Regions from separate parts of the Homo sapiens genome. Here all the other regions are linked to region 2. Evidence: fine-mapped expression QTL. A gene starts in region 2. Each other region holds a variant in brackets. All regions are shown on one strand. Distances are from middle to middle.

Evidence for each region. PIP is the estimated chance that this variant, and not a neighbour inherited with it, causes the effect.
Region 1: its variant is the best candidate, but not a certain one, in a credible set for the expression of DNHD1 in whole blood (TOPMed, PIP 0.61).
Region 3: its variant is the best candidate, but not a certain one, in a credible set for the expression of DNHD1 in whole blood (TOPMed, PIP 0.72).

The regions. Positions count from the first base shown.
Region 1 is chr11:6,530,903-6,541,037 of GRCh38, reverse strand. DNHD1 (dynein heavy chain domain 1) reads right to left here. Exons shown (of 43, transcript NM_144666.3): 13 at 7,854-8,011; 14 at 6,865-7,357; 15 at 2,528-2,655; 16 at 2,228-2,426; 17 at 1,725-1,819; 18 at 955-1,162. Among named protein-coding and RNA genes, the nearest start is that of DNHD1, 39 kb to the right of the region's middle. The variant G/T (reference allele first, on the strand shown) is at 4,239.
Region 2 is chr11:6,490,949-6,501,083 of GRCh38, reverse strand. DNHD1 (dynein heavy chain domain 1) reads right to left here and starts at 3,804. Exons shown (of 43, transcript NM_144666.3): 1 at 3,753-3,804; 2 at 3,417-3,499; 3 at 2,123-3,313. The coding sequence starts at 2,868.
Region 3 is chr11:6,541,938-6,552,072 of GRCh38, reverse strand. DNHD1 (dynein heavy chain domain 1) reads right to left here. Exons shown (of 43, transcript NM_144666.3): 19 at 7,827-7,952; 20 at 7,402-7,499; 21 at 4,407-7,281; 22 at 4,033-4,210; 23 at 3,671-3,863; 24 at 3,140-3,428. Among named protein-coding and RNA genes, the nearest start is that of DNHD1, 50 kb to the right of the region's middle. The variant G/A (reference allele first, on the strand shown) is at 4,281.

The sequences.
Region 1 (10,135 bases), 40 kb before region 2:
TGCTGCCCAACTTTGCAGAAAGTGAAAGCAGAAATAGTAGACAATACATTAATGCAAGAAAGGCAGTGAGGAACTATCAAATCAAACAAAAGCTCTTGTCATTAGGTTAAAACGTTAGTAAATAAATGTACATGTATGTATTTTAAGCTAAAATAAAAATCTTAAACTATGTATGCATCATTAGTTTTTTGGATTCACCAACTGGGTTCTAGTTGCGTTGAATAAGAAAATTCTCCTCTATTGGCAATGCCCTAGCTATATCATCTTGGATGCTTATGTAAATGCTGTTCCCTTTGTCTGGTCTGCCCTTCTCACCTGGCAAGTTTGGCAAACTCTTACTCCTTCAAAAAGTCAGTATAAGGCCTCTGCCTAAAGAAGACTTCTCTAATTCTCTCTCTGGTTCTTTGAGCTGGTCCTCTCTCTGAGATTCTACTGCCCTCAGTAAGGTGCTCCATTGTGTTTATCCCTATAGTATTGTCTGTCTCTCCTCACTGGACTCAGAAATTTCTGGGGGACAGGGATACTGTCTGTAAGTCTCAAGGTCTCCTGTGTTTAGCACAGAGGAGGCAGGTTTGATGAGGGAGAGAATAAAGAAATGAATTAATGAATAAGGTATAAAATCAGACAGCAGGGTGCAATCTAGAGGACAGAGCATTGAAAGGTGTAGATAACTGACTATGAGGAATTTCTGAGGGTACCCAGAAAGGGGAGGACCTTTGCTGAAGGACCCAGGCATTGAGTAGAGATGGGTGAGGGGAAGGGGATCCCAAGGAGATTAAGACAGTAGGGGGGCTACATGGAAGACACTGTCTCAGAACAGACTAATGTCTTAGGCTGTCTAGTAAGGATGGGGCCCTGGCTAGAGAATCAGATCTGGCAGGCCTTGATGGATATGGTGGATGAAAATGGCCCCCAGCAGGGGGCTTTCACTAGGTCACAAGGTCTGGGTCTCACCTGAGAGGATGAAGGTGCCACTATCTTTGTCCACTACCTCCCATTGGGGGCTGCGGAGCACCTGCCTCTTGGAGCGCTCTGAGGCTGGGGGCTCGTAGGGTACATGCAGGATGAAGTTGAGCAGGCGCAGCTGGCGCGCTTCCCAGTACCGCTGCAACCGCCGTATAGTCTCTTGGGCATGAATTCGTTCATTTTCATTCTGCCAGACCTGGAACAGCTGGGTCTCAGGAACCAGGACTGGGTAACTGCTTCGGGGACAGGCTTGGAGCCGAGACTTGGGGATTGGATCTGAGGCAGAACTCAAGGGCCAGGGCTCAGGAAAGTGGAGGTCTCAGAGATGAAGCGAGAGTGGGACCATCAGGCTTCAAAGATAGGCCATCGGCAGCATCTAACTACCTTGCCCCAGGGCCACTGCTTTGGAACCCCCACCCACTTTTGCAAGGCTCCAACTGAGCAAATACCTCAGTCAGCTCGCACCCTCTGGGGACAAGACAGGTGTTGGGGGGCACCTGCCATTCTGTGTGCCCACAACTTCGGGGCTGCCACCCACTTCCTTCCCCCATCAGGGACATACTCTCAGTCACTGGGAGTCTGGAATCACACAAGAGATCCCCATCTGGAGACTTAAAGAAACTGTTCCTGCCCTTCAGGCAGGTTAGCAGGCTCAACCCCACATTAAATCACATGCCAAACACCCACCACCCTTGACTGGCTTTATTACAGGTCCTGGCTTTGGACCACCTCCCTCGCCCCTGTACTGAGGGCCCCACCTGGTTGATTCGATCTGCAAACTCCAGCAGTGGATAAGTAAGCAGCTGGCCCAGCGTTAGGAGTTCTATAGTTTGGAGACTGCCCAGCCCAAGGGCTGGAGGTAGAGAAAACAAGTCAGAGCAACACCCAGTATGTGGCAGAGTCCAACCCATATCCCATATCCCAGAGCCCAGCCCAGCCCAGCCCAGCTCAGACCCCAGATAGCAGATCTCAGAGCACAACACAGAGCCAACAGCTTAGAACTCAAGGTCTAGAGCACAACTCAGAGCCCAGAGCTAAGGCCCCAGCCCAAGCCCAGCCACCATCAGCAGAGAGGAGGTAGTAAGGGAAGTTAAAAATTTTTGTCCCAGTTAAGGAAAAGAAATTGAAATATGTGGGAAAGGTAGGGAGAAACTTGGGGATGAAAGGTGTTTCCAGCAGGAGCAGCAGGAAACTGAGTTGCTGCATCGCTCTAACCTCACATATTTCCCTTTCCCCCTCCTCTGACATTAACCAAACATACCACGCAGGAGACACTGGCAGTTGAGGCTCTGTGGGTGGAGGCTGCCCAGCTTAGTGAGCAGGGGCAGGTAGCTGCGAAACTCCCCCAGGATGCGCATGCAGTGCTGCAGCACGGGGCTGTGCAGCTCCAGGGTTGTGCTCATCCGTGCTGCCTCTGTCAGCCAGCCCTCTGTCTTCTCCTGGGCCATAGCTGGGCTGAACTGCAGGGAGAAGGGCTCACTGTCAGCTTGAGACTCTTCCCCTCCCCCACCACTGTAGTCCTCCACTCCCAGTCAAGAGCTCCAAGGAAGGGTGTCAGCACCTTGGCAAAAGCCATGCACTTCCACTCGCTGATGTTTTCGGAGATGACTCGGTACAGGTGCCATATGCGCTGCTGCTGCACAATAGGACGTGTCCCACAGATTGGCAAGGGCACAGGAGTCTCATCCTCTGTGGGGGAGGGCTGACTTGAGACCTGGGCTACTTGCAGTGTTGGGAGGGGGGTGGTGGAATGATCAGTCAAGAGCCCATAATGACAGAAGGTAGGGTCCAGAAAGTGATGGTTGGGGGTGGGGGAGGTGGAGTTCCAAATTGTTTGGCTCAACAATGGAGGTGGGGTTAATCCAAGGAACAGTTACTCCAGGGAAAGACCATCTGGGAAAATGTGATGGCAGTGAAAGGGAAGAGTTCCTCTTTAATTAGTCTCCATCTCATTCACTCCATTCTAGTGACACTGGACGCTTTACTATGGCTGAGATGCACCAGATATGCACCCTCCTGCTAAGGGCCTTTGACTAGCAGTCTATTCTTTCTGGAACACTCTTCCTTCAGAGAATCACATGGCTCATGCCCTCACCAGCTTCAAGTCCTTGTTCAAACAAACAGCATCTTCTTTTTTTTTTGAGACAGAGTCTTGCACTGTTACCTGGGCTGGTGTGCAGTGGCGTGATCTCGGCTCACTGCAACCTCTGCCTCCCGGGTTCAAGTGATTCTCCTGCCTCAGCCTCCCAAGTAGCTGGGAATACAGGCGCACACCACCATGTCAGGCTAATTTTTGTATTTTTAGTAGAGACAGGGTTTCACTATGTTGGCCAGGCTTGTCTCGAACTCCTGACCTCGTGATCCGCCCGCCTCGGCCTCCCAAAGTGCTGGGATTATAGGCATGAGCCATTGCGCCTAGCCAGACAGCACCTTCTTAATGAGGCCTATGCAGGCTATCTGGTTAAAAATTCCTAGCTACCCTTCCCGGCATTTTCAACCCCTCTTACTCTGTTCTATTTTTTTTTTTTCTCTATCACTTATCACTTTCTTATATACTACAGAATTTGGTTATCATCATTGTTTATTGTCTTTCTCTCCCAACTAGAAGTTTGGGTCCATTAAGAAAAGCATTTTATCATTTGTTCACTGATGTACCTCAAGCCTAGTGTACACAGCAGTCTCTCAACAAATATGTGTTGAATGAATGAATGAATGAATGAGCGAATGAACTGTCAGCCCAAAAGAAAGTTCAGCAAGATGAATATAAAAAAGATCTGGCCCACATAGAGGACCTGTCATGTTTACCTCCGGCCATTATCCTCCACCCCTTCATCTCACAGGGTACTACATTAGTTCTTAATCAGTTACTTATAGTCAGTTGTGAGATAAGTGTCAATAGGAATTTATAATTAACAATAATTATAATATCGAGGTTTGCAATTTACTTAAAAGACAACAGATATCTCATTAACTTGAACTCCAGTTTACTTTCTTGAGTGGGACAAAAAGTGATAGAGTCACACCCAAATGCTGGGCCTCATGCATCTTACACATGTGCACATCATCCATTTTGGAGATCTCAGAGTATTAAAAAGCTGGAATCACTAGGCTATCAAAGCTCTGATCTGACAAAAAGTAAAATGACAGTAAATCTAAACTCTTCCAGTCTTTGTCTAAACTCAAAGATATGGCTAGAGTCCCATACAATCTTTGACAGCAGTTGTTTCAACATCAAATATTAGACAAATAAACAACTTCATCTGTAAGAAAGA[G/T]CAGAGATATCATCTCCAAACACATGAAAAGATAAAGACAAACTGGGGATTAAGAGCAAATGTCCTTTGACAGACATTTTGTGATATCTACTTGATAATTTCCATGCATTTTAAAACTTTTTATCTGAAAATGAGTTCCAATCTTCAAAGTTGTAGGAAAAAGTAGTAAAAAAAAATTGTGTACCTTCTATCTTCCATAGGTATAGATATATATCTATACTGTTTATCTTTGCCTTTTGTTGACATTTTACCCATTTGCTTTATCATTTGCATTCACATGCTCTGTGCATGGGCATGTGTATGCACATATACACACACACAATTTTTTTTTCTGAACTATTTAAGGGCAAGTTACATAAATACTCAAGTATGCATTTCCTAAGAGTAGGGATATTCTTTTATATAACCACAGTGCAATTCCAAATTTCATATATTATATTGATACAATATTTTAATCTACTGTCCATATTTCAGTTTTGTCAGTTGACCTAATAATGTCCTAGATTGCATTTTTTGCCTCAATTATAGCATCTGGTCCAGGGTCAAGCACTGCATTTGTCATGTCTCTTAGTTTCTTTTAATCTGGAACATTTCCATAGCCTTTCTTTCTTTTGTAACAGACATCTTTGAAGTATACAGTCCCCTTTTGCCATTTTTTTTGTTCATAGAAAGTTCCTCATGTTGTGTTTTTATGGTTTTTAAAAATGATACTCATTCTCAGCTGGACTACTACATAAGTGATATTGTATCCTTCCTTCTCCAGTATCACATCTGAAGGCAGATCATGTCCCTATGTCCTTCATTGGTGATGTTAATTTTTAATCACCTGGTCAAATTATTGTCTGATTTCTCCACTAATTGTTGTTTCTTTTTCTTTCTTTCTTTTTTTTTACAACAAATAAGTGATCTCTGGGAGAAACTCTCAAAGACAGTGCAAATATTCTGCTCCTCATCAAATTTGCCCTAGATTTGGCATCTGTTGATCCTTATCTGATCTGGTAATTACCATGATGGTTGCAAAATAATAATTTTCCCACTCCAGCCTTCCTTCCACATTTATGCCAGTCAGCTCCTGGCATTTTACTGTAAGCATGAGTCCTCATTTCTCTCTCATTATCTATTTATTATTACTACGCATAATAAATGCCTTTACTTCAATAGCTTAGAATTTATTATTGTACTTACTTTGGTGATCAAATTGTTCCAGATTTAGCCAGTTGGTATCCCTTCTGAATCCTTGTGATATGCTCCCATCACTTTTTTAAACACTTTAATACTTTCTTACTTTCTGGTATAAAATGACACTTTAGGTTCATCTTGTACCTACCCTGCCACAGCCCTGGAATCATCCATTTCTCTAAGGAGCTCTGGTTCCTTTTAATGGGGAATGGTGTTTGTTAGAAACTAAGACCTGAGCACAATGTGGCTTCTTGCTACTGGGGTTTCTTTGCTTCATGTCCTCTTCAGCAGATAGAGATAGCAAATGTGTGCACATGTATATACACATAAACACACAGTTACATGCGTATACATGTGTACATAAGCATGCATACACATGCAAAATGTGTGTTTTAAAATGCAATAGAAATACAAAGTGATACCATAGGAAATGGAAGCTTATAAAACAAGCTCACAACATTTTTCCAGAACTCAGAGAAAAAGAATAAAGGAATGACTGATGATAAAGAAGATAAAAGCAATGAGTGAGAGAGATTCAGTAAATCCAACATACATATAAGAATTCTGGAAGGAAGGCCAGGCGCAGTGGCTTACACCTGTAATCCCAGTGCTTTGGGAGGCTGTGGCAGAAGGACTGCCTGAGTCCAGGAGTTCAAGACCAGCCTGAGCAACAAAGTGAGTCCTCATCTCTACAAAAAATACAAAAATTAGCCAGGCATGGTGGCACACACCTGTAGTCCCAGCTACTCAGGAGGCTGAGATGGGAGGATTGCTTGAGCCTGGGAGGCTGAGGCTGCAGTGAGCTGTGATCATGACACTGCACTCTAGCCTGAGATCCTGTCTCCATTGTTTGGTAATGGCTCTTATATTTGCTCTGGTCTCCTTCCAGAGCCCACAGAGTTCTTTAAGAACAGAAGGGAACCAGCTTACCTGCACCACTGTATGAAAGAATTGAGACCAATAGTTCTGTCCTGGCCTCCTCCTGTGTATTAGTGAGGCCCTCAGTAGCCTCCTCTCTATACCACACTGGCTGGAGGAAGTGATCTGCTAGAGCATCAAGACCTACTCTTGTTCGGGGCCTGCTGCCTGGTGTAGGACTGTGTTGAACAGGGCTACAAAAAGGCTACGTTCTATAAGGAGAACTTACATTTCTCCCACACATGCTTTTAGCCCCTGACCCCATCACATTCTGATGGAACATTCACTTGTTTGCCTTCCTTACCAGACTGTGAGCCCCCATACCCCCACCCTAAGCACAACACCTGCCATGGTCAATATATGATGTTTTTGTCCTGAAATTTTCATTTATAAAAGACACCAGTGAAGGTGTGTGATTCCCAAGGCTTGCTTGGGGTCATACAGGACACAGAACCCTGAGTTCCAACTCTTACTTCAGTTGAAGGGTCTATCACAGAGTGATAATGGAGGGTGCAGGGATCCTCAGTACCAGTGAAGATGGCATAGGCGTGGTGCAGTTCACTGAGGTCGCTGACTGTGTTCTGGAACTGACGCTCTAGGGAGACGAGCTGGTGCTCAGTACTCCTCTGATCTTGTGTGGGGTCCATAAAGGGACCGGAGAGGGCCTTCGCAAGCAGGCCTTCCAGCTCTGCCAATGCTGCTGCCATCAGCTGCTGCAGCTTGGGCATAATGGCATGTCGCTTGCTGAGCAGGAACTCTGAAGCCTGGCTTTTCTCAAACTGAAATGCCTCCCACATATCCAGAAGCTGTGGGGCAAGCAGAGGGCAGTGGAGTAGATGTGGTTGTGGGGGAGGAGGGCAGGGAGGGATGGGTGACTCCCCGAATTGCCTTCTCACCGAGATGTCCAGTGCTTCATTCTCAGCACTAAAGAGGCTAAAGTGGTTGCGGATGAGTTCGTGGAGTGCCCGTACGTATTCCATTCGCTCCTCCAGCTCGACGTACTGTTCATTGGCTTCATTCAACTGCAGGAATTACAGCATGAGACCGGCAGCCCCACAACCCCATGTACCTCTTTGGTCCCATCCCCAAGGGGAACTCCCACCTTTTGGAGTGAAGTCTCCAGACCCAGTTGCAGCCTTGTAATCAACTGGAATCAGGGGCAATCTCTCCTGAGGGATCTCTCCAGAGGGATCAAATCTCTCTCTGACCCAGATCTCTCTGGTGAAGGGTCCACTTCTCACCCACCACCCCATTACCTTGATGACAAGGCAACAATTTTCTATCTGACTGTCACAGAGAGCACAACTCTCTCATCACACCAGGGCCTCCCTGTGACATGAGGAACCTGAGGGCCACATGGACAGGGTAAGAATTAGCAAGGGTAGATCTCTTAGGCGAGCACAGTTTAAGAGCATCAAGCTCTGCTGGGGGCTCAGCAGAGACCTGAAGAGAGTGTGCTGAGCTTTTGAGCAGGATGGGCCCTGAATAAACTGGGAAGGATGGATGGGGAGAGCCCACCTTCTGGGTGCACTGTGCAATGGCATGAATATCTGAGTTGATGGTTCGGAAGATATGCATGAAATCTGTGAGCTCTGTCATGAGTTGTTGACTGAGGTTCCAGCACTCATTTTGCACGTGTGCAAGAATGTCCTTCCTTATGCTGTTCAGCTTGGATTCTGGAGACAGGAGAGTAAGGTGTGAGGGGACGCATAAAAAAGAAGGGGTGCTGGGGACAGTGCTGTGGTCCAGAGTGGGAGTAGGCTGAATGGCAGGTCAGACCATGAATTATCTCATTTAATGCTTGTTGAATCCCTGCTCAATGTCCAGTCAGCTGCTATGCACTGGGGACTGTGCTCTATACTGGTAGACGAGAGCAAATGAATGAGACAGAAAGTTTCCCCACCCTGAAAAGCTCACAATATGAGGCAGAGACAGACATACAAATGAGCAATCACAAATCAGTGTGATAAATCCACTGTGAGTGCCTGGAGCCTTCAGCCAGTATAGCTAAGAGGTGGGGGTGCCGGGGGGTATCCTGAGAAGGCTGGGCAAGGCCCCTTCAGAGAAGGGAACACTGGAGTTGGATGTGTTGAGTATTAATTCTCCAAAAAGATGAAACAGTGTGTGCAACAGTATGGAAATGACATGTTTGTGAATAGCAGAGTATCCTAGCAGACATAAAAGTATTCTGGTTTTGGAGTCTTACTGCCCTTGCTCTAGAAGAAGGGGACCAAGAAGGTAGTATGATCTGCCTTTTGTTTTTAAGGATTAAAGTAAAGAAAGTCTCAGGTGGATAAGGGGCTAGAAAGTAATCCTGGAAGCTGCCCTTGGCAGTATGAACAACTTTATTATCTCAGAGGGCAGGGATAACACCCATATGATACCTCATAAAATCTAAGATCCCGTTGTAAGAAGCACCATTATTTTATATACCACTAACAAAGAAAAAAAACTGATGCCATCTAAACTCTAACACATCTTCAATCATGAGACACCTTTAAAGTTCAGAGATGTTAAAATATGCACAGAATAGGAAAAATACAATATAGAAATATGGTACACCAAATAGAGTATAGAGTGCTTTCTACATACCAGACACTATTTCAAGTACTTTAATTATATTTTATCCTCACAAATTCCCTTTGAAGTAAATACTATTATTTTACAGATAAGCAAACTGAAGCTCAGAGAGGTTATGTCACTTGATCAACATCACACAGTGGCAGAGCAAGGATTCAGACTCAGGCAGCATGGCTCCACTTCATTATATTTTAAATATAAACATGTTTATGTTATAAATATAAATGTAAACATAAAAATATATGTTTATAAAAAGTATTTAAAAATATTTTTTATGTTATGTGCAAAGTAAACTGACCGATCCTCTATTAGCATCTCTGCAACTAGTAAGTAAAATAGTGAGTTTGGGGGACAGATAATTGAGACATACTGGGTATGTCACTTTCAGAGACTTGGAGGAAGTAACCAAGATGACTGGGTACTAAGACCTGATAATAAGAAAACCTGCTGAGAGGAAGCCTATTGAGGGACAACCTATATCAAACAGAACATGAAGATCTAAACTCATCCTTTTTCACACTGTCCCTTTGGAACATAACAGTAACTAGGCCATTGCAATGCTGCCACATTTGTTTGCTTGTTTGTTTGTTTGTTTGTTTATGGTGCTGCTTTTGGACCAGTAGCAACAGGCAGATGAAGGCAGATGGGAGCTCAACAGTGACACCGTATGGTATAAAGGAGCAATGCATTGATAAAATACCAGGACTCCTTGGGATTAGAAGCTGGAGATGGATAAAAACAGATTTAAGAGATACTTAGGGGGCAGAAGAATGACAAGGATTTGGAGACAGGTTGGATGTAGTAAGGTCAAGGAGAGGGAGGAGTAAAGGGTGACCCCAAGTTTCTGGTGAAGCTAATTCGTCAGAGTGTATAATTACGCCATTTGTTGTTCAAGGGAGTTCAGGAAGAAGAGAAACGACAGAGTTAAGTCAGAGGGTTAGATAAAATTAGATCAGCAAGAAGGATGAGAGTAGATACAAGGGGATAAGGTGAAATGAAAAAAATATTAAGCACCTACTGCATGCCACACTCAATGCTAAGAGTATTGCAAATAATATCTTAGTCATCCTTACTATAACCCTGTGAGTGACTGTGTTATCATGCCCAGCTTACAAATAAAGAAACTAAAACACAGTAATCTGAAGTTACAAAGCAAGTGAAAAACAGACAGGGTTCTAAATCCAGTGCTCATTTCTCTCCACCTGCTCCTCTTAAAGAGA
Region 2 (10,135 bases):
AACATGTAATACTACTGACTGCTCCCTCCTCCTTGAAACTCTGTTTGATGTTTTTGTTAATCTAATCTAGACTTGAACACTCCCCCCACATGCTTTCCCCCTAACTACACTCCCTCTCTCTCTCTCTCCCACCTGCAGAGAAGCAGCCAGGCAAAAGACAGTATTCTTTTGTTTTATAGCACTTATTACAATTTGTAATTATATTTTACTTGTTATCAACTTAACTATATCTCCCTAACTAAACTGTAATACCTCAAGTGAAGGGATTGAGTCTGTCTCATTCACTTCTGTATCCCTAGCATCTTGCAGATCCTAATAAATGTAGCTATCCAACACTTATTGAATGAATGAATGCCTGGCAAACCACTCCGGGAGAACGTAATGCAAATTAAGCCATATTAGCTAGACCTCAGAGGTTTACTGCCAGGTTCAAAGGGAGGGCAAAGAACTTGATCCCTTCCCAACATCTCAGCCCATGCCAATTCAGTCAAGTTCTCCCAGGAAAGGAAACTTGTACTCAAGGCACAGGGCAGCTCTTTGAAAAAGGAAAAGATTCCAATAGGGCCACCATAAATTTATGGCATTGGCCACCTCCCATTAGGGCCCCAGGAGCCTGCCTATCTATCTAACATTAGGCTTTAATGGAAAGACTTGACCCAGCCATAAACTTACAGCAAAAACTGAGGAAGCCAACCTTAATTAAAGGTAAAACTAGCCTTCTTCCCGAACAGTAAATGTGCCACAGACAGCTGCAAAGCATTGTCTAGAAAATGAGGCCAGAGGACAAGGAGAATTCCAAAACTAAAGTTAAAAAACTCTCTTGGGCACGGTGGCTTATGCCTGTAATCCCAGCATTTTGGGAGGCCGAGGTGAGCAGATCACTTGAGACCAGGAGTTGGAAACCTAGCCTGGTCAACATGGCGAAACACTGTCTCTACTGAAAATACAAAAATCAGCTGAGCGTGGTGGCATGAGCCTGTAATCCCAGCTACTCGGGAGGCTGAGGCAAAAGAATCGCTTGAACCTGTGAGGCAGAGGTTGCAGTGAGCCAAGGTCAGGCCACTGCACTCTAGCCTGGGCGACAGAGTGAGACTCTGTTTCAGAAAAAAAAAAAAAAATCGAAAGTTAGAGAACGCTGAGAAGAGAAGGTCTCTGTAAGCATTCTGAAATCCTGTAGAGAGCTCTGATAGCCAGATATTTTAAAAAAGAAAACAATAGGGCCGGGCGCAGTGACTCACGCCTGTAATCCCAGCACTTTGGGAGGCAGAGGTGGGCGGATCATGAGGTCAGGAATTCGAGACCAGCCTGGCCAACATAGTGAAACTCCGTCTCTACTAAAAATATAAAAATTAGCTGAGTATGGTGGCACGTGCCTGTAGTCCCAGCTACTCAGGAGGCTGAGGCAGGAGAATCACTTGAACCCGGGAGGCGGAGGTTGCGGTGAACCGAGACCATGCCGTTGCACTCCAGCCTGGGCGACAGAGTGAGACTCTATCTCAAAAAAGGAAAGAAAGAAAGAAAGAAACAAAAGAAAAATATATCACTCAAGGGGCCAGAGTGCCCACACTGGCAGGGCAAGAAGAAGACTCTGGAAGGGTCAAAATGAAATTCTATCCAGTAGTGCTGCCAACTCCACTCTGCCTTGGAGCCGGTTTAAGTCACATAGACATGTGGGAAGGACACTCGGACACACATTCCCCAGGGGTACCTTGAGGGAAAGACCCAACATCCAGGAATCAACTCACAGTAGGCCCAGGCAATGTTCAGTGATTATGAATGAATTATAGAAAAATAATTAAGGAGACTTCTGACATCATCTAAGAAAAAAACCTGGAAACTGAAAAGTCAAGCTGTTATTCTAAAGCTTTGGCTGCCTCATAGCTGACTTCTGATTTTCATTAATTTCTGTATTTCTCTATGGGGATTAAGACTAACACCACTGGGTTTATTTTGCAGAGAAAAAGGAAGAGGAAAGTAGCCTCACACTAGCTTTGTGTGGAGTTGGGCTAATCCCTGTGATAAACAGAGAGCTGGATCTAAACTTCCAAGTGACCCCAGAGGCACCCATAAAACAGCAACTTTTTCTCCTCTGCTCAAGCCCTAGACTGAGTCCCTCACTTACCTGGTCTCTTTTCTTCCAACAGGCTCCACCTCTGCATTGTCAGTGTCACTGCTTTCATACCGTACAGGGATGTCCGCTGCCAGTGCCAAGGGAAGGAGACTAAGTCCATCCAGCCACACAGCCTCTTCTAGGGCCACCTGAGCACCAACAATGCCCAGGCAGCGCTGTAGCTCAGGCAGTGTCAATGGTCGCAGCCAGGTGGCCAGCTCCTCCTTTACTTGCTGCCTGCTCCACTGGGCCTGCACAAAAGGGCAAGCTGGGCATGGGGGCCTGTGATGGAGCCTCCGCTTCTGGGGACAGCAGTCAGCATGGGAAGCACTGTCTAACAAAGAGCTGTCTGGAGGAAAGGCCTGGACAATGGCACCTAGCAGGTCCAGATGGAGGTGGGTTTGGACCCAGGGTGCCCAGCAGTACAGCTGCTCCAGGAAGGGCAGCAAATCAAGGTGGCCAACTAGCAACTCACGATATGGAGGCAGTAGACCCAGTACTGCATGAAGATAGCGCCAAGCTGCAGGGCTACTGTCCTGCAACACAGCTGAGAACAGAGTTCGGAGCTCAGCTAGCAGGAGTTCCAGCACTGTGGGCTGCTCTGACTCAGTCACTGGCTTCACGAACTGCCTCTGTTTCTGCTGGCAGGCCAAGGGCTGTTCTTTGCTGTCCAAGACACATATGGAGTGCCAAGACTTAAGGGAATCAGATGATGTCTCATCAGAAGACAAACCTACCCTCCTCTCCTCCGGGACCATGAGGAGCTGGGCATTCAACTGCTGTCGAAGTGACCTTGCCCATAGCTCAGGCTCCAACTGCCAGTTCCAGGATGCCAGATGCGGGGCCTCACCTGCATGGGCCAGCCCAGCAGAGGGGCCAGAGAAGGGACCTCAGGCTCTGGGCAGGGGATGGTCAGAGTCAATGGGGTTAGGAGGAAGAAAGGACCTGGGACAGGGAAATAGATGGAGCTACAGAGCAGAGCCAGACCAGCAGAGAGCCTTTCCTGAGACCCTCAGGCCCTCCCTACTGCTTCCCCAAAGACTCTGGTAAGGAGCAGGCCTAAGACAGACGTGAGAGCCCTCCTTGCAGAAGAGTTCCTTCTTACCTCCCAGTACCCTGTCCCCCTCACCTGGCCTAGGGGGGTTAGGAGGCAAGGCAAGGGAAGAGAGCCCGATCTGCTGATGAGGTTTCATTGAAGAGTGCCTGCTGGAGCAGTGAATGAACTTAGACTTGAGTTCCAGTCTGAGGCTCACCCTAATCATAGCCACCCATACACGGAGAGACTCGCACACAGACGTGCAATCACCTGAAGAGGCAAACTGACACACCGACAGAGCTCACTCTGAACCTCGGTCACAGCAAGGAATCTGCACTCGAGCTGGCGATCGCCTGAAAAACGGGTTAACAGGTCGTCACTCGAAGGCAGCAGAGCCCCAGTCCCATGACGTCTTCGCCCACAGCCTAAGGAGGTCGTGAAGACAGAAAGCCGAGGAGCAGGCACAGCAAATGATGGTCAGGATGCAGGTAGGGGAAGACGTTAACAGGCAAAGGAGGGGGCTGGGAGAGCGGGGAAGAGGAGGCGGACTCTGTGGGAGGGGGTCCTAGGGAACAAAGAGAAATGGATCCGGAGCCGAGGACTCACCCGCAGCTCCACCCGCACCCAGCTGTTAGAACCGTTACAAGATTCCAGAAGGACCGAGTCTTTGCCAGGAGCATCCGGGGGAGCCAGAAAGAGGAGGGGCCAGGGTCCGATATGGGCGGGGCCGAGAGGGCAGAGCCCAAGCCTGGAGGGGCAGAACTAGGTTCAACCTGTGGGCTAAGGCTTGCCTGGGACAGGGACCTGTAGAGGACCAGGCGGGGTCTGAACTGCACGTGCAGTACGGTTGACTCGGGAGACTAGCAATCCAGAGGGTGTCGTAAGCAGGTGTTTATATCCATTCGCTGAGTATCTAAACTAGTGCCAGGTCTTTGGTATGTCTTTGGTACTCCCCCATCCCCACCCCCAACGTATCCATCTACCCTATCCCACCTCCCCAAAAGAAGCCCGAATAAAACAAAATCCTTGATCTCAAGGAGCTCAACATCTATTTGGCACGGGGGGAGGGGGATTTTTTGGGGAAGGGCTTATGGAGGGGCTAATTTTTAAAAATTAAGTTGAATGAGGCCGGGCGCGGTGGCTCATGCCTGTAATCCCAGCATTTTGAGAGGCCGAGGCGGGTGGATCACGAGGTCAGGAGATCGAGACCATCCTGGCTAACACGGTGAAACCCTGTCTCTACTAAAAATACAAAAAAATTAGCCGAGCGTGGCGGTGGGCGCCTGTAGTCCCAGCTACTGGGGAGGCTGAGGCAGGAGAATGGCGTGAACCCAGGAGGCGGAGCTTGCAGTGAGCAGAGATCGCGCCACTGCACTCCAGCCTGGGCGACAGAGGGAGACTCTATCTCAAAAAAAAAAAAAAAAAAAAAAAAGTTGATGATTAAAATAAAAAAAGAAATTCAGCCCACCTCTCCTCTGAAATCAGATTAGTATATCCAACTGCCTACTTAATGTCTCCACCTGGAGAGCTTATAGGTATCTCAAACTTAAAATGTCCAAAAGCAGGCTCCTAACCACCCTTTCCCCACCAAAGAAATGCTGCTCCTTTCACTGTCTTTCCCACCTCAGTCAATGGCAAATCCATTCTTTCTGGTTTCTCACACCAAAACCTTGGAGTCAGCTTTGAGACCTCTTCCAAACCCCTTCTTTCTCTTTCCCTCTTCTTTTTCCCTTTCTCTTTCTCTCTCTCCCCCTCCCTCCATAAGTAATCCTTCAGGAAATTCTGCTGGTTGTGCCTTCAGAATATATCCAGAATCCAACTATTTCCCACCATCTTAAGTACTACAACCTTGGTCTAAGCTGCTATCATTTCTCACCTGGGTTTTTCCACAGCCTTTGAACTGTTCTCCTTGCCTCAGATCCTTCTCATGCTTCTCACCATTGCCCCTACAATCCATTCTTTTTAGAGCAGCCAGTGATCCTTTTCAAATATAGGCAGATCCTATAACTCCTCTGCTCATAGCTCACTAATGCCCCCTCATCTAATTCCTTCAGCTGAAGGCCAAAGTCCTATCATGGCCTACAAATTGCTGATAACTGCCTGCTACCTCTGTAGGCTTCTCTCTTCACATTCACACTCTACTACTGCTGTGCCTGAATCACACCAGCCATACCCCCACCTCACAGACTACATACAAGCTGTGCTGTCTGCTTGTGTATCAGTTAGGAGATACACAAGTTATGACTGTTATTTATTTATTTTTTTGTAGAGACAGGGTCTCACTATGTTGCCCAGGCTGGTCTCGAGCCTCTGGCCTCTAGCAATCCTCCCACCTCACCCCTAAAGTGCTGGGATTACAGGCGCGAGCTATTATGCCCGGCTGTGATGGTTAATTTTATTTGTCAATTTGACGGAGCTAAGGGATGCTCAGATAGCTGGTAAAGCATTATTTCTGGGTGTGTCTTTGAGGGTATTCCTGGAAGAGATTAGTATTTGAATAGGTAGACTAAGTAAAGATCATCCTCACCAATGTGGATGGGCATTGTACAATCTGTTGCCTAAACAGAATTTAAACAGGCAGCTGGTGGACTTGCTGTTTTAGCTGAGACATTCATCTTCTGTCCATGGACATCAGTGCTCCTGGTTCTCAGGCCTTCAAACTTGGATTGAATTCCACCACCAGATTTCCTGGTTCTCTAGTTTGTAGACAGCAGATTGTGGGACTTCTCAGCCTATCAGTTCTGTTTCTCTGGAGAACCCCCACTAACGCGCAAGTTTTCTGGAGCTGCATAACAAGTTATTACAAACTAAGCAGCTTAAAAACAACACCTATGTAGTACCTCACAGTTCTGTAGATCAGATGTCCAGCATGACTTTACTGGATTCTTTGCTCAGGGTATCATAAGCCTGAAGTCAACATGTTGACGGGGCTACTCATCTGGTGGCTCTAGGGGGTGGGGGGTGTGGGGGGATCCACTTCCAAGCTATTATTGTTGTTGGCAAGATTCAGTTTCTTGCAGTTCTAAGACTGATGTCCCTGTTTTCTTCATGGCCATTAGCCAGGAGCCACTCTCAGGTCCTAGAGGCCACCTGTCTTCCTTGACATGTGGTTCCTCCATTTTCAAGCCAACAACAGTGCCTCTAACCCTTCTCATGCTTCACACTTTTCTGATGTCCCCTTCTGCAACCATAAAGAAAACACTCTGCTTTTAAAGGGCTCATGTGACTCATGTGACTAGATCAGGCCCACCCAGACAATCGCTCTTACAGTCAACTATGCCATATATTATAACCTTCTCACATAAGTAAAATTTGTCACATTCACAGTCCCATGGAATATGCAGCGTATACTAGGGAGATATATACTAGAGAGCAGGAAATCTCAGAGACAGTGGTCCCCAACCTTTTTGGCACCATGGACCAGTGTAGTGGAAGACAATTTTTCCACGGACCAGGGGAGGGGTTAACGGTTTCAGGATGATTCAAATGCATTACATTTATTGTGAGCTTTACTTATTTTACTATCACATTGTAATATATAATAATTATACAACTCACCATAATGTAGAATCAGTGGGAGCCCTGAGCTTGTTTTCCTGCAACTAGACAATCCGATCTGGGGGTGATGGGAGACAGTGACAGATCATCAGACATTAGATTCTCATAAGGAGCATGCCACCTAGCATGTGCTATTCACAATAGGGTTCATGCTCCTATGAGAATCTAATGCCACCAATGATCTGACAAGAGGCAGAGCTCAGGTAGTAATGTGAGCGATGGAGAGTGGCTGTAAATACAGATGAAGCTTCACCTGCTCACCCACCACTCACCTCCTGCTGTGTAGCCTGGTTCCTAACAGGCCATGACTGGTACCAGTCTGTGGCCCGGGGGTTGGGGACCCCTGATCTAAAACTTCTACCTACCACACAAATGCTGTAATAAAAAGACCCAAAATATCATGGCTTAAACATGATAGTTTATTTTTTTCTCTCACATAACCATCCAAATATAAGTACTCTGAGGCTACCACGGTAGCCTTCAGTTGTTCTGCCTTCTCCAAGGAAGTAGTCCTCATCTTTAAGGTCCAAAATAATTTACCACCATGTGTGCCACGTCCCATCCCAACTAGTGAGATGGAGGGAAAAGGAAAGGAGAAGGCATACCCTTTCTTTTAAGGGCACAGCCTGGCAACTGCACACATCAATCACATGACCAAGCCTAGCTGTAAGGAAAGCTACAAAATCTAATCTTCATTTTCAGTGGTCATATGCCAACAGAAAATTTAGAGGTTCTTTACATAAAGAAAGGAGACAATGGATACTAGAGGACCACTAGTGGTTTACACAACTAGTTGAACAGTAGAAGAGTGAACACTTCTTCAAGATGCTCTCAAGGCTTACTCTCTCAATTCTCTGCTCAAATGTCACCTTATTAGTGAGTTCTTCCCTAACTGCCCAACAGAAAATAGCAACTCTCTCCCCAACATCCTTATCCTCTTTACTTGCATTACTTCTCTCCACAGCACTTATTACCACTTCATATAAATACTTATTTATTTCCTATTTCCCCTGACTAGAAATATAAGCTCCATGGTAGCAGAGATTCTGATTGCTGCCTACTCTATCCCCAGCTCCTATACTAGGCACCATGAGTACATGATCAGAAAATATTCATGGAAAAAAATACATAAATGTATAACAATCTTCATTTGTGAGTAAGAAGATGGGCTCTGGAATCAGACTGCCTGGATTGAAATCCTAACTTCATCACTTACTAGTCATGGGATATTTTACCTCAGTTTCACTTTTTGAAAATGAAGATAATAATGTCTACCTTATAGTATTGTGAGGATTAAGTGAATTAATGCACACAAAATGCTTTAGAATAGAGCCTGGTAAGTAGTAGACATTTGATATAATTGTTAAGTGTTTAGTTGTTATTAATTTTGACATAACGATGAACAAGACAAAGGATTCAGTGAGGGCATGAATAAAGAGCATGGACAACTCTTTCATAAAAGGGCAAGGAACGGTACCTGAGTCACAATAGTCCTTAAAGTTTAAGGCCTTGAAACAAGAAAAAGGTGGGTGCGGTGGCTCATTCCTGTAATCCCAAAACTTTGGGAGACTGAGGTGGAAGGATCACTTGAGCCCACGAGGTTAAGGCTGCAGTGAGCCGTGTTCATACCACCACACTCCAGCCTGGGCAACAGAGCAAAACCCTGTCTCAAAAAACAAAAACAACAAAAAAACACAATCAAAGCTCTTCAGACAAAGACAGAAAGGAATTCTGTTCAGCAAGCTCTGCTGAACCCTCAACACTGCCTAAAACTCTGTTTCTTTTGTCAGTTCACTCTTCCATTCCGGGCAATCAGTATTTCAAACCTCTTGTACTCTCTCATCTTCCATTTCCTTCTGCTTTATTCTCAGATGATGACTTTACCTTCTATTTGAAAAAAAAATGAGATGCTGTATTATCAATCAGCATTCTCCAGAGAAGCAGAATCAATAAGATATATATATTCATATAAAGACATATATTTTAAGAAATTGGCTAACACATGTGTGGGAGCTGGTAAATCCAAAATCTGTAGGGCAGGCTGGCATGATGGAAACTCATGCAGAAGTTAATGATGCAGTCTTATTTTTTCCTCTTTTTTAAATTTTTATTTTTTTAGAGACAAAACCTCACTCTGTTGCCCAGGCTGGAGTACAGATCATAGCTCACTGCAACCTTGAACTCCTGAACTCAAGCAATCTTTCCATCTTGGCCTCCCAAAGCATTCGGATTACAGGTGTGAACCACTGCACCTGGCCCGATGCTGCAGTCTTGAGGCAGAATTTCTTCTTCTCTGAGAAACCTCAGTTTTACTCTGAAGGCTTTCAACAGACCCACATTATCAAGAGTAATCTCCTTTATTTAAAGTCAACTAAGTGTACATGTTACCCATACCTATAAAAATGCCTTCACAGTAACACCCAAATTAGGGTTTGATTAAATAACTGGGTACTATAGCCTAGCCAAGTTGACACACAAAACTAACCATCACATGCTATTTAAAAGGAATTCTCTCAATCTCCAAATGCTAAATTTTAAAATCATTTAGATCTGCTCTTATCCATTCCTCCCTCCTTACTGTTACCAATTAGAGATGCTCTTTCTCTCTCTAAAGGCAAGTTCTATACCTTTGCCCTGGGACTATTCTTTCTTGCCTCCTTTCACTCAACAAATATTTATTGAGTATCAACTGCATCAGGCACTGTTTTCAGTGTTTGGTTATATCAGTGTACAAAACAGAAACAGTGACAGAAATTCCTGAGTTATGGACCTTACATTCGAGTGGGAGGGACAGATAATAAAGAATAAAATGACACTTTGGGAGGCTGAGGCGGGCGGATCACGAGGTCAGGAGATCGAGACCATCCTGGCTAACACAGTGAAACCCCGTCTCTACTAAAAATACAAAAAACTAGCCGGCAGTGGTAGTGGGCGCCTGTAGTCCCAGCTACTTGGGAGGCTGAGGCAGGAGAATCGCTTGAACCTGGGAGGTGGAGGTTGTAGTGAGCCGAGATCATGCCACTGCACTCCAGTCTGGGCAACAGAGCGAGACTTCATCTCAAAAAAAAAAAAAAAAGAATAAAATGAATAAACTACATAGCATGTGAGAAGTGATACGTGTTATGGAAAAAAACAAAGCAAAGAGAATCAGGAATGTCTAAGGGAGCATGGGTTACCATTTTAAACACGATAATCAGAGTAAGCCTGAATAAAAAGGTGACATCTGACATCTGAGCAAGGACTTGAAGGAAAGGAGGACAGACCTTCTCCCTATCTTTTGTCTGGTTTATTTTATTATTTTGAGACAGGGTCTTGCTCTGTCACCCAGGCTGGAGGGCAGTGAGGTGATCATGGCTCACTGCAGTCTTGATCTCCCGAGATCAAGCAATCCTCACACCTCAGCCTCCCAAGTAGCTGGGACTACAGGCATG
Region 3 (10,135 bases), 51 kb before region 2:
GAGGGTCCCACTATGCTGCCCAGGCTGGTCTTGAACTCCTGGCCTTAAGAAATCCTCCTGCCTAAGCCTCCCTCCCTAGTAGCTGGGATTACAGGTGCATGCCACCATGCCTGGCTCCCCTTTTTTTTTTTGGAGACGGAGTCTCGCTCTGTCACCAGGCTGGAGTGCAGTGGTGCAAATCTCAGCTCACCGCAACTTCCACCTCCCTGGTTCAAGCAATTCTCCTGCCTCAGCCTCCCGAGTAGCTGTGATTACAGGTACATGCCACCATGCCCAGCTAATTTTTGCATTTTTAGTAGAGACGGGGTTTCACCATGTTGGCCAGGATGGTCTCCATCTCCTGACCTCGTGATCTGCCCTCCTTGGCCTCCCAAAGTGCCGGGATTACAGGCGTGAGCCACAGTGCCCGGCCCTGGCTCCCTTTTTATCCTTTTAAATATCTTTAATAAAACCTCTTTCATTCCTGATATTCAAAATTTATGTTTTCCTTTTCATTTCTTGATTTGTGTTAATAGGCGATTGTCAATTTTATCTTTTTCAAAGAAACAAAATATGGCTTTGTTGATATTCTCCATTGTTTGTATGTTTTTCTATTTCACTGATTTCTGCTCTGTTCTTTATTATTGATTTCCTTTTAATTGCTTTGGGTATAACTTGCTCTTCTTTTTCTAGAGTCTTAAGCTGAAAATTTAGGTCATTGATTCCAAGCTTTTCTCTCTAAGATAGATATTTAAAGCTATAACCTTTAGTTGCATCTCACAAATTTTGATATGTTTTGTTTTCATTATTATTTAGTTCAAAACATTCTCTAATTTCTCTTGTAATTTCTTTTTTGGTACATTATTTAGAAGTGTGTTAATTTTAAAGAATTTGGAAATTCTCTAGGCATCTTATCAATATTTGTATTGTTATGGTCAGATAAAATATTATTTAAAATGTTAATCCTTTGAAATTTGTTGAGACTTATTTTGTAACCCAGCATATGGTCTATCTTGGTGAATGTTTCATGTGCATTTGAAAAGAAGGTGCATTTTGCAGTTGGTGAGTATAATGTTTTGTAAATGTCAGTGTGTTGCTAGTGTTATTCAGATCTTTAATGTCCCTACTTTCTTGCTCCTTGTCTTATCAGTTATTGTGAGAGGCATATTAATTTCTTAATATGATTTCAGATTTACTATGTCTCTTTTGTTTCTATTGGCTTTTTTTCCCTATACTTAAATGTCTATTTTAGGTGTGGACACATTTAAGACTTTTGTCTTTCTGATGAGTTGAATCTTTCAATTATGAGATGTCCTTTTCTATCTCTGGTAATATCCTTTGTCTTAAAGTGCTTTGGTATTAATATTGCCACATCAACTTCCTTATGCAAACTATTTCTGTAGTAAATATTTTGCATTAAAAACTTCTTTTAATCTATCTGTGTTTTTATATTTAAAGTGCATCTTTTGGACAGCGTACAGCTATATAGATCTCAGGGTCAGTTTCTATTCTATTGCTTGCTTCTTCTTGACAGCAGGTCACATTATTTTCTGGGGGTTTTTGTTGGCATGTCTATTTATTTTTTATTTTATACTGGATGTTCTGGTGGTTGTCACTCAAGGACACCTTTTACATTCTGCCAGCAGTAATATTCTTCACTCTACAATGTTGCTGAAGTCTCTTCTCAGCTGAAATCTCTTCATATATCTGACTGTACCACTCTTTACTCCTTCTATTGTCTCTAATTTTGTGCAAATTCATTGCAAAGACCAAATAATATAGCTGGAAGGAACTACAGGTTTTGGAACCAAATAGACTTGAATTTTAATCTTGGTTCTGACACTTCATAGCTAGGGTATCTTGGGCAAGTTCTAAAATCTCTGTCTCTGTTTCTTCATCTTTAAAATAATTGCAAAAATTCCCCATCTTACTTGGCTTTTATGAGCACTGAAGATGACATAGACATATCATAGAGCACATAGTAGATATTCAATAAATTGTACTGGCTATTATTAAGTACGAATACATCTGGTTCAAGTTTTCTACATCTCATAAGAGACTTCGCTGTTTAACTGGATAGCCTATCCAGTGCTTCAGCCCATTGACTTCCTTGACTCCAACAACCTCTACCTAAAATTCACTTCCCAATCCCATGGCCATATTTAGAAACTCTCATCATCTAGAGGCATACCACTTTAGAAACTTTACACTTCAATATCCCAAATTTTTATCAAGATTTTTCTCCTTTCCTTTGTTATCTTGTCTTCTACAAACTTTTATTGAGCACTTACTTCCTGTTGGGTCTACCAAAATGAATGAGACAAATTTCTGTTCTCTGTTCTCATAAATCTCCAAGTGTGGTGAAAGGGACAGATAGGCAAGCATACAATAATAAAATCATGGTTATCACAGATTATTGTACAGAGCACAGGATGGATATCTAACCGAGCCTATGGATCAGGCTTCCTGGAGAAGCTACTGCCTTAGGTAATTTAGAAATAATAAGTAGAATTTAGCCACATAGAGAAGGCAGAGAGGACAGCAATCCCAGGGTCTAGAGGAAGCCTGACTTGTTAAGTCCAATTAGAGAGAGTGTAAGAGGACACAGAAGAAAGCCTCATCACAGAAAGCTTTGTAAGAGCATTTGTCAGATTTCCAAGTAAAGATCATCTGAACCATGGAAATAAGTGGAAAGATTCAAGAAATATGAAGGAGGTAGGATTGAAAAGACATGGTGACTGGATATTGGTGAAGGAGAATGAGATGTCAACAAGATTTCTGGCTTACATGACTGGCTGGATGGTGAAACTAAGAGGACAGACAGGAGCAGATTTTGGCCGCGGGGAGATGATGAGCTCAGGGTTGGGTCTGAGGTACCAACAGGACAACAAGGTGGAGACGTACAGTAGACAGCTGGATAGACAGATCTGGTGCTTAGAAAAGAAGTGAGATTGGACACAGAGATTTAGCAAAGCAGAGATGAGGCCATGAGAGTGGATGGGATTGTTCAGGGAGCATATGTAGAATGAGAAGATATTAAGAACAGAACACTAAAGTTAGATCTACAGACATATATTTGAGAGTCAATGAATATTGCTAGGGATTTTATAGTCTCAAGAGATGACAGTAGCTCCTTCCTTCCCTCTTCGCAGCTCCTCACCAGAAGTGGCTAGGTGCAGGTCCTCCAGCAAGAAGAGGAGGGAGGGTTTAGAATCCTGGTGATGCCCAGGCTGTGGGCTGGCTTGTGTTTGGCCCTGGATTCCTCTGCTCAGCAGGAGACGGAGGTGGGAGGAACTGAAGGCAGGGTGGATGGGGCTGTATATGTAAGGGTGATGTGGCTCTACCAGCACCTCCACAAAGGCTGACTTCCCTGTTGCTGCCTCTCCAGCCAGCAACACTGGCTGTCCCCCTGACAGAAGCAGGTCCACCACATACAAGAGCCGTTCAGTCTGCAAGACAGAAGTGGGACTTACTGCAGCACCTCCAGTATAAGACAGTAATCTAGCTGAAAATAAAAGTCTAAGGGACTTGTCCTAGAGCTGTACTTGGAAAATATTTCATGTATTCTTGTGATTGTGAAAATATATCAAAGAAAGGGAGCAAGTGGGCCTCAGCTGATCTTTGAACATGGATTACCCCTAAAATAAGTCCTGAAGTTCTAACCCCAGCTCTTGCCTTACTGTCCTCACACCTGGATAGAAGGGTGAAAGGTGCCCAAAGTTCCTTTGATGTGGCTGCTCAGGTATTGGCCAGTGAAGGGGACCAGTGTTCCATCTTCAGGGCTTACATGTAGATCAAACACCAAGGCTGAGGGTGGTGGCTCAGGGTAGTTGGAGAGGCGACTAATAGAATCCCTTATGAAGGTATCAAAGATGGGCCAGAACCTGCTCAGATGGACACACAGGCAAAAGCGTCAGACAGTTACAACACTTCCATTTATGACACACTCACACACTCCACCATACCCTAACAGTGATGTCATGTGGGTTTTTACTTCCATGGGCCAGTCCATCTCAGCCCTCTGCATCTCCCATCCCCCATCCTGGTAGGTACCTGGAGGGAAGGTGGGCTCCAAAGCCCCAGATCAAGGCAAAAAGAAAACTGCTGACAGCCAGCAAGTGTTCCCTGCACTTATCTGGCACATCGTCACTGTCAACCTGGGACCGGTTTAGAAAGCTGCTTTTTGAAGACCTGAAGCTTTGGGCCACAGGATCACTATAGCTGAGGTCCTCTGTGAAAGTTGCCATGGCCACGAGAGGAGCCCCAGTAGAAAAAGGTGGAAGGTGAAAGAAAGAAAAAAG[G/A]TTGACAGTATTACTTTTCACTCCTGGCCCAGATCCACCAAAGAACACACGCCCCAGGCTCCAGCTATATACCCCAGCTACCCTTAAGGCCCCATCTCTCTCAAACCAGCCCGTCCATCTTCCCACCTGGGCCAGGGGCCTTCTCCTCCTTTAGGCGAAGGTGGAGGTCAAGCAGACTATGCAAGATGCGTGCCATGCTGGTAACTTCTGCCACACCTGCACAAACAGCCTGCTGCCCGTGTACCTGCAGCAGAGAGCTGACACCTTGGCAGGTGAGGAATCGCAATGTTGCAGGCACCAGAACCTCAGCCATGTGGTTGAGCTCAGCGACTGTCCGGTGCTGCAGGCGGTACTCATAAGGAAGGGATGCCATCAGGGCACTAAGTATACACTGCCAAGTCTGCTCTCCACCACACCAGACTAGGGCACAACAGCCTACCACTGTGGGGGATATGCCTGTTGTGTCAGCCACCTCCATCAAGAGAAAGGTGCCTGGGGGTCGTGCTATCTGCTGTCCACTGGGGAGACTAAGCTGGGGAAGCTCACTCAGGAGGCAAGTGATGGAGTCCAGCCAAGCACCATTGGAGGCTCCATCACATATTATCCAGTGCTGGATCCCGATTGATTCCTCTGTCTGCCTCTTTTGGCCCATGTTGTTACACTGACCGGCTGCACGAAGTACCTTGGGAAAGATGCCATGATGCCAGCAGGAGCCCTCTAGCCATCCCAGGAACTCCTGGGGGCTGAGGCCACTGGGGTACAGGTGGGTAATTTCCACAGGCTGGCAGCCTTGGGTTGAGGTGTCCTCCATGGCTGCCAGCCGATTCTGGATCTTAAATAAGCTGTGCCAACAAGTGGTCTTGCCGCTGCCCGCAGGGCCCAGGAGCAGAATGCCTGAGGCCCGGCTCAGGGCCTGGCTCAACTGTTCCAAGGACCCCAAAATGTCAGGGCTGGGATCCAGACCTACCTGTTGCAGTTCCTCCACCACCAATGGCTTCATCAGCTTGTAAGTCATAGGTTCTGCCAGCACTTGGCTGGCGCTAGGGAAAAGCGCACACAACAGCCCTCGGAGGTTGTGCAGGTGGAGCCCATTGAGAATGCTAAACAGTGGTGAGCGCAGTAGGGCAGCCTCCTCAATGGCAGCTAGGCTGCGAGGCTTCTGGCACTTCGGTTCCTCCTTGGTCACATTTAGTGTCCGTATTGTGTCTTCCAGTATCTGCTTGAGCAGTGGCAGGCGGCAGGGCAGGGGCCCAGACACCAGCTCACGCTCTAGAGAGAAGAATTTGGATAGGCGGGTAGCCATCTGGAAGGCATCCCTCATCCCTGCACCCAGCAGAGTCAGCTCTGCCACTTGCCGCAGATCAGGCAATGCCAATGCCACAGGCCGCAGCAGCAGGTGCAGGTTGGCAGGCACAGCAGAGCTCAGGGCACGCAGTACCAGGAGACAGCCATAGCCAAGGCGCACAGACACGTGATGTTTTTCAAAGAAGCTACTGCCAAGGAGCTGGGGCTGGGTGGGGTCTATGGTGCTTGTGTTTCGGGAAGCCTCCTGGTACAGTGGGGCATACAAGTGGTGCAGTTCACCCAGGCGCTGGCCCAGGGCAGAGAGCAAGCCAGGGGGCAGCTGATGAACTTTCTCCAACAGCAGCCAGGCACCACCCTGCAGGGCACCATTCAGATAGTTGCTCAGGCATTGAGCCTCTATCTGAGGTGAGCAGGGTAGCATCACCAGCTGGCGGCCCAGGGCCTGTGCCAGGCTGTTCACTATAGCTCTCTTGCCCACACCATTAGGACCCAGTACGGTCCCACAGGCCACCTCCTCTAGGGCCAATAATAGTACCAGGGCTGGCCGTTCAGGCAGTAGGCTGGGTAGAGGCCCTAGTCTAGGTCCCAGATACTCGTAATTGTACAGGAAGGACCTGCCTAGCACATCTATCCAGCATGCCGCTGGTGACAGAGAGGGTTCAGAAGATGCAATAGTCTTAAGACTCTGTAGGGGGCTTTTGGGGATTATGTGAGGTGAACCCAAGTGATACTTGAGTTGGCGGACCCAGTGAAAGTCTGTGAGATCACTGACCTGGTGCTGTTCCAGCAGCTGTGCTATATCCCGGTGAGTCACTGCCATGACCAGCAGGGCACTGAGAAGGCTGGTCTGGCGGACAGAAGGCAGGGACTGCCCACCTTGGGAAGCCCTCTGGGCCCGCATAAAATTCACCAGTACCTCAAGCTTGCGCATATGCATGGAGACCATGGCCAGGGTACCCCACTCAAGCAGAGCCTCCTCCATCTCGGCCCGCCATACCACCTCCTCTGCCACCAGCACACACTGCCATGGGAAGGCCTGGACTAAGTCGATCCAGTGCTGGACATACAGTTGCAGGTACAACTTGTTTTGCTTGGGCAGTTGCTTGAGGGCCTCACCTAGAGATGGGCCTCGAGCAAGGCGAGCAGCCACACAGCCCTGCAGCATGTGCACCAGTGCCAAGCGCAGACACTTCTCCAGAGAGGCCAGCCACTTAGGGAGATCTGGATGCAGAGGAAGGGGACCCTGCAGCTTCACCTCCTCCCCACCTGCCCCTAGCACTGCAAGTGCCTCCACCTGAGTCTGTGTGTTTGGGCTTGACTCCCAGTCATCTGTGTTTTTCTCACCAGTTGGGCAAGACCTGAAGCTCACAGCATGCACATGAGGAAAGCAGCGTCGTACCCATAGCTGGGCTTCGCATGATTCCAGTCGAGCAGCCAGCAGGGCTACCAGCTCACTGTCACTAAGGAAGAAGAGGCGGGGGAAGTGAGCACACACCCCATAGAGCACGCTCTCCAGACTCATGATGATGCCCTCCAGCTCCACCGATCCTGCTTGCAGCAGTTGTTGCAGCTGCTGGCCTTGGAAGTAAGGGCTCCTCTCGGCACTGGGCACTACAAGTGACAGAACCATGGGGTCAGCTACAGAGATGCGCATCAGGGTTCGATACTGGTCATCCATGACCTTGAAACGAGAGTTCTGTGGTGAGGGAGAGGATAAAAGTGAGGGCCAATATGAAGTGGCAGCTCCCCTTTCCCACGCTGAGCCCTGCTATTCAGGAACCCTTCTTGCCCTCTCTGCCTCAACCCCCTTCCCTACCAGGTCAGCATTAGGAAACTGGATCTTCATCTCATGCAGAACTTTATTCAGAAAAATCCACTTCTGCTGGAAAGTCAGCCACACCTCCAGCAGGGCACCTGTGTAAGCAGCCAGAGGAATGCTGGTGGGAAACACTAGGGTTCTACCTTCTGCAGGGGAGTCCACCCTGCTCCTGACCTCTCAGGTACCCCACCAGCCCAAGCAAAATACTCTGCCCAGCAGGACTCAGGGAACTTGCTTGAGGGAGAAAAAACTTTCACTGTGAATAAAAACCTGATCTCTTCATCCCAAGAAACAGCCCTGAAGGAGGTCCTCACTGTGTTCTTCATATCTTCTCCCACCCAACCTCCACCTCTCACCCCCATCCCTCTGGGACATCCTGCCTCAGGTCTCACCCATCAGCCTGGCTAGAGGCCTGCACTTACCCAGGCCATGCATGATGGCCACCCACTCCAAAGCTATTTTGTTTAAATCTCCTGACTTTTCGATGGCCAAGATCTTGGACAACACCTGAAGACTTTCCTGGATGGAATCCTGCAGGTTGCTGTAATCTAAGACAGAAAAAGCTGAACTGGCAGTCAGATGAGGCAAGGGCCGGGGCTGGGGGAGAGAAGAGGAGACCAGGGGAACCTTCCAGGAGAGGCAGTTACAGAGACCCTGATGCCCTTTCTGTCTTTTTCTTTCCCTTTTTTTTTTTTTTTTTTTTTTTTTTTGAGACAGAGTCTCGCTTTGTTGCCCAGGCTAGAGTGCAATGGCACGATCTCAGCTCACTGTACTATGCTTCCTGGGTTCAAGCAATTCACCTGCCTCAGCCTCCTGAGTAGCTGGGATTACAGGTGTGTGCCACCATGTCCGGCTAATTTTTTGTATGTTTAGTAGAGACGGGGTTTCACCATGTTCATCAGGCTGGTCTCGAACTCCCAACCTCAGGTGATCCACCCACCTCAGCCTCCCAAAGTGCTAGGATTACAGGTGTAAGCCACCATGCCCAGCTGCCCTTTCTGCCTTTAAGGATTCCATCAGCCAATATGTAGAGCCAGTAAAGCACTGGGGTCTCAAAATGGTGAGAGAAGAAGCTCCTCCTTTCCCAAGGCACTGTGGGCAGACTCCAGGCCAGCTAATTTCCCTGACTAGCTGCTATGAGTATCCACGTAACTCCATGGAAGTGCTTTGTAAGAACTAGAGCCTCTAGCCCGGGAAGAGGGCTGAATGGCTCCAGGACCCTACGTAATATTTCTATAGCAAGAATGCCCATTCTGTCTTAAAACGGGTCTTGGTAGAGAAGCTGAGAACAAACTTTTCTCTCATAGTCTTAGTGCTTGGCTCCCTGGTGCTGCTTAAAGAGTTATCCCTTCATGCCACAAGTGCTTGGTAAGACTAGGGCTGGAAATGAGGTAGGGACACTAATTGGGGTAAAAATGAGAAGAATCAAGAAAGGAGGTTTATTCAGACACATGTAGGACTCTCCAAACATCCCTGGTGGGAAGAAAACTCATTATCCTGCTCTCAGAGTCACACAACTTCTACTCCACTCTCTAGAGAAAACAGCACTGGACTAATGCTTTCAGCCCCTCTGTCTATCTTCTTCCCTTACTCTTCCCCATGTGAGGAGGCAAAGAGGCCCATCTTTTATGCTCTATGGGATATGAGGCAGGCCACAGTCCTCTACACAGCTACCTGTGTAACTGTACTTCAGCTTTTCTCTGCATATCCACACAGACCTCAAGTTCTCAATTAATTGGGGGAAGATTATGACGAGGTAGCACGAAGTCTCACTTGACCTAGATCCAAGCTGTGTCTGCCAACATGATACATAAAAAGCACAAACTTCCTTGGGGGTGATGGTTCTGATAGTATACTTTCATTTTCATATATATCCTTGTCCTCATTTGGTTAAGAATCTAAAGGGGAGATTAATAATTTGTAGGTGTGCCCAATCCTGTAACAACCTGTCTTCTTGAGGTAAGAATTAAATATATAACAAGTCCATCATTTGGGGTTTATTTGGGTGAACGAAGTCACCAGCTTCATGGTGTGTGGCCACTACAAAGATGTGGTCCTTGGTTAACATGCCCGGAGTTAACAGGAAAAGAAAGCCTGGTACAGAGAAAGGAGAGAACCCATAGGGAGAAACCTCAACCACACAAGTGCTTGGTGCAAATGCTAGCTTAGAGAGAGAAGGGAAAACTGAAAAGGAGCAAAGGTGGAGGAAGGGCTGTGAGCTCAGGAAAGACTGGTAGGACCCAGGCTGGTATCTGAAATTATGCCCACAGGCATCCCAAGGCCCACATTATCCAGAGCCTTTACTTTGTATTACGAATTTTTATTTATTACTTTTAGTAGCAGAGAAATCTAAGGATGAGGCAGAAAAGTGGTAGAGATCAAGTAGGAGCAGACTGGCAAAGTGTGGAACCAGGGTCAGAGATGGGCAAATGGATTAGCATAAAATGTGCTCAGGACAAAAGTGGGAAGACAATCTCCTTTCAATCTTGGTGCAAATGTTAACTGCAGACATCCAGCCTTTGTGTCAGTCCACACCAAAACTTAAGAGTCCTTAATAAGGGCGATGTGAACAAGGGGGCTGGGTGCCATTTATCAATGTGCTGCAAATGGCTGGAAAAGGCACCCCTCACCAAATACTGGATATAAAGAGGTGATAAGGATAAAGAATTTGGGTAATAAGGAACATCTATATTAGAATGGAAAGGACCTACATTCTCCTCTATGCAGAAGT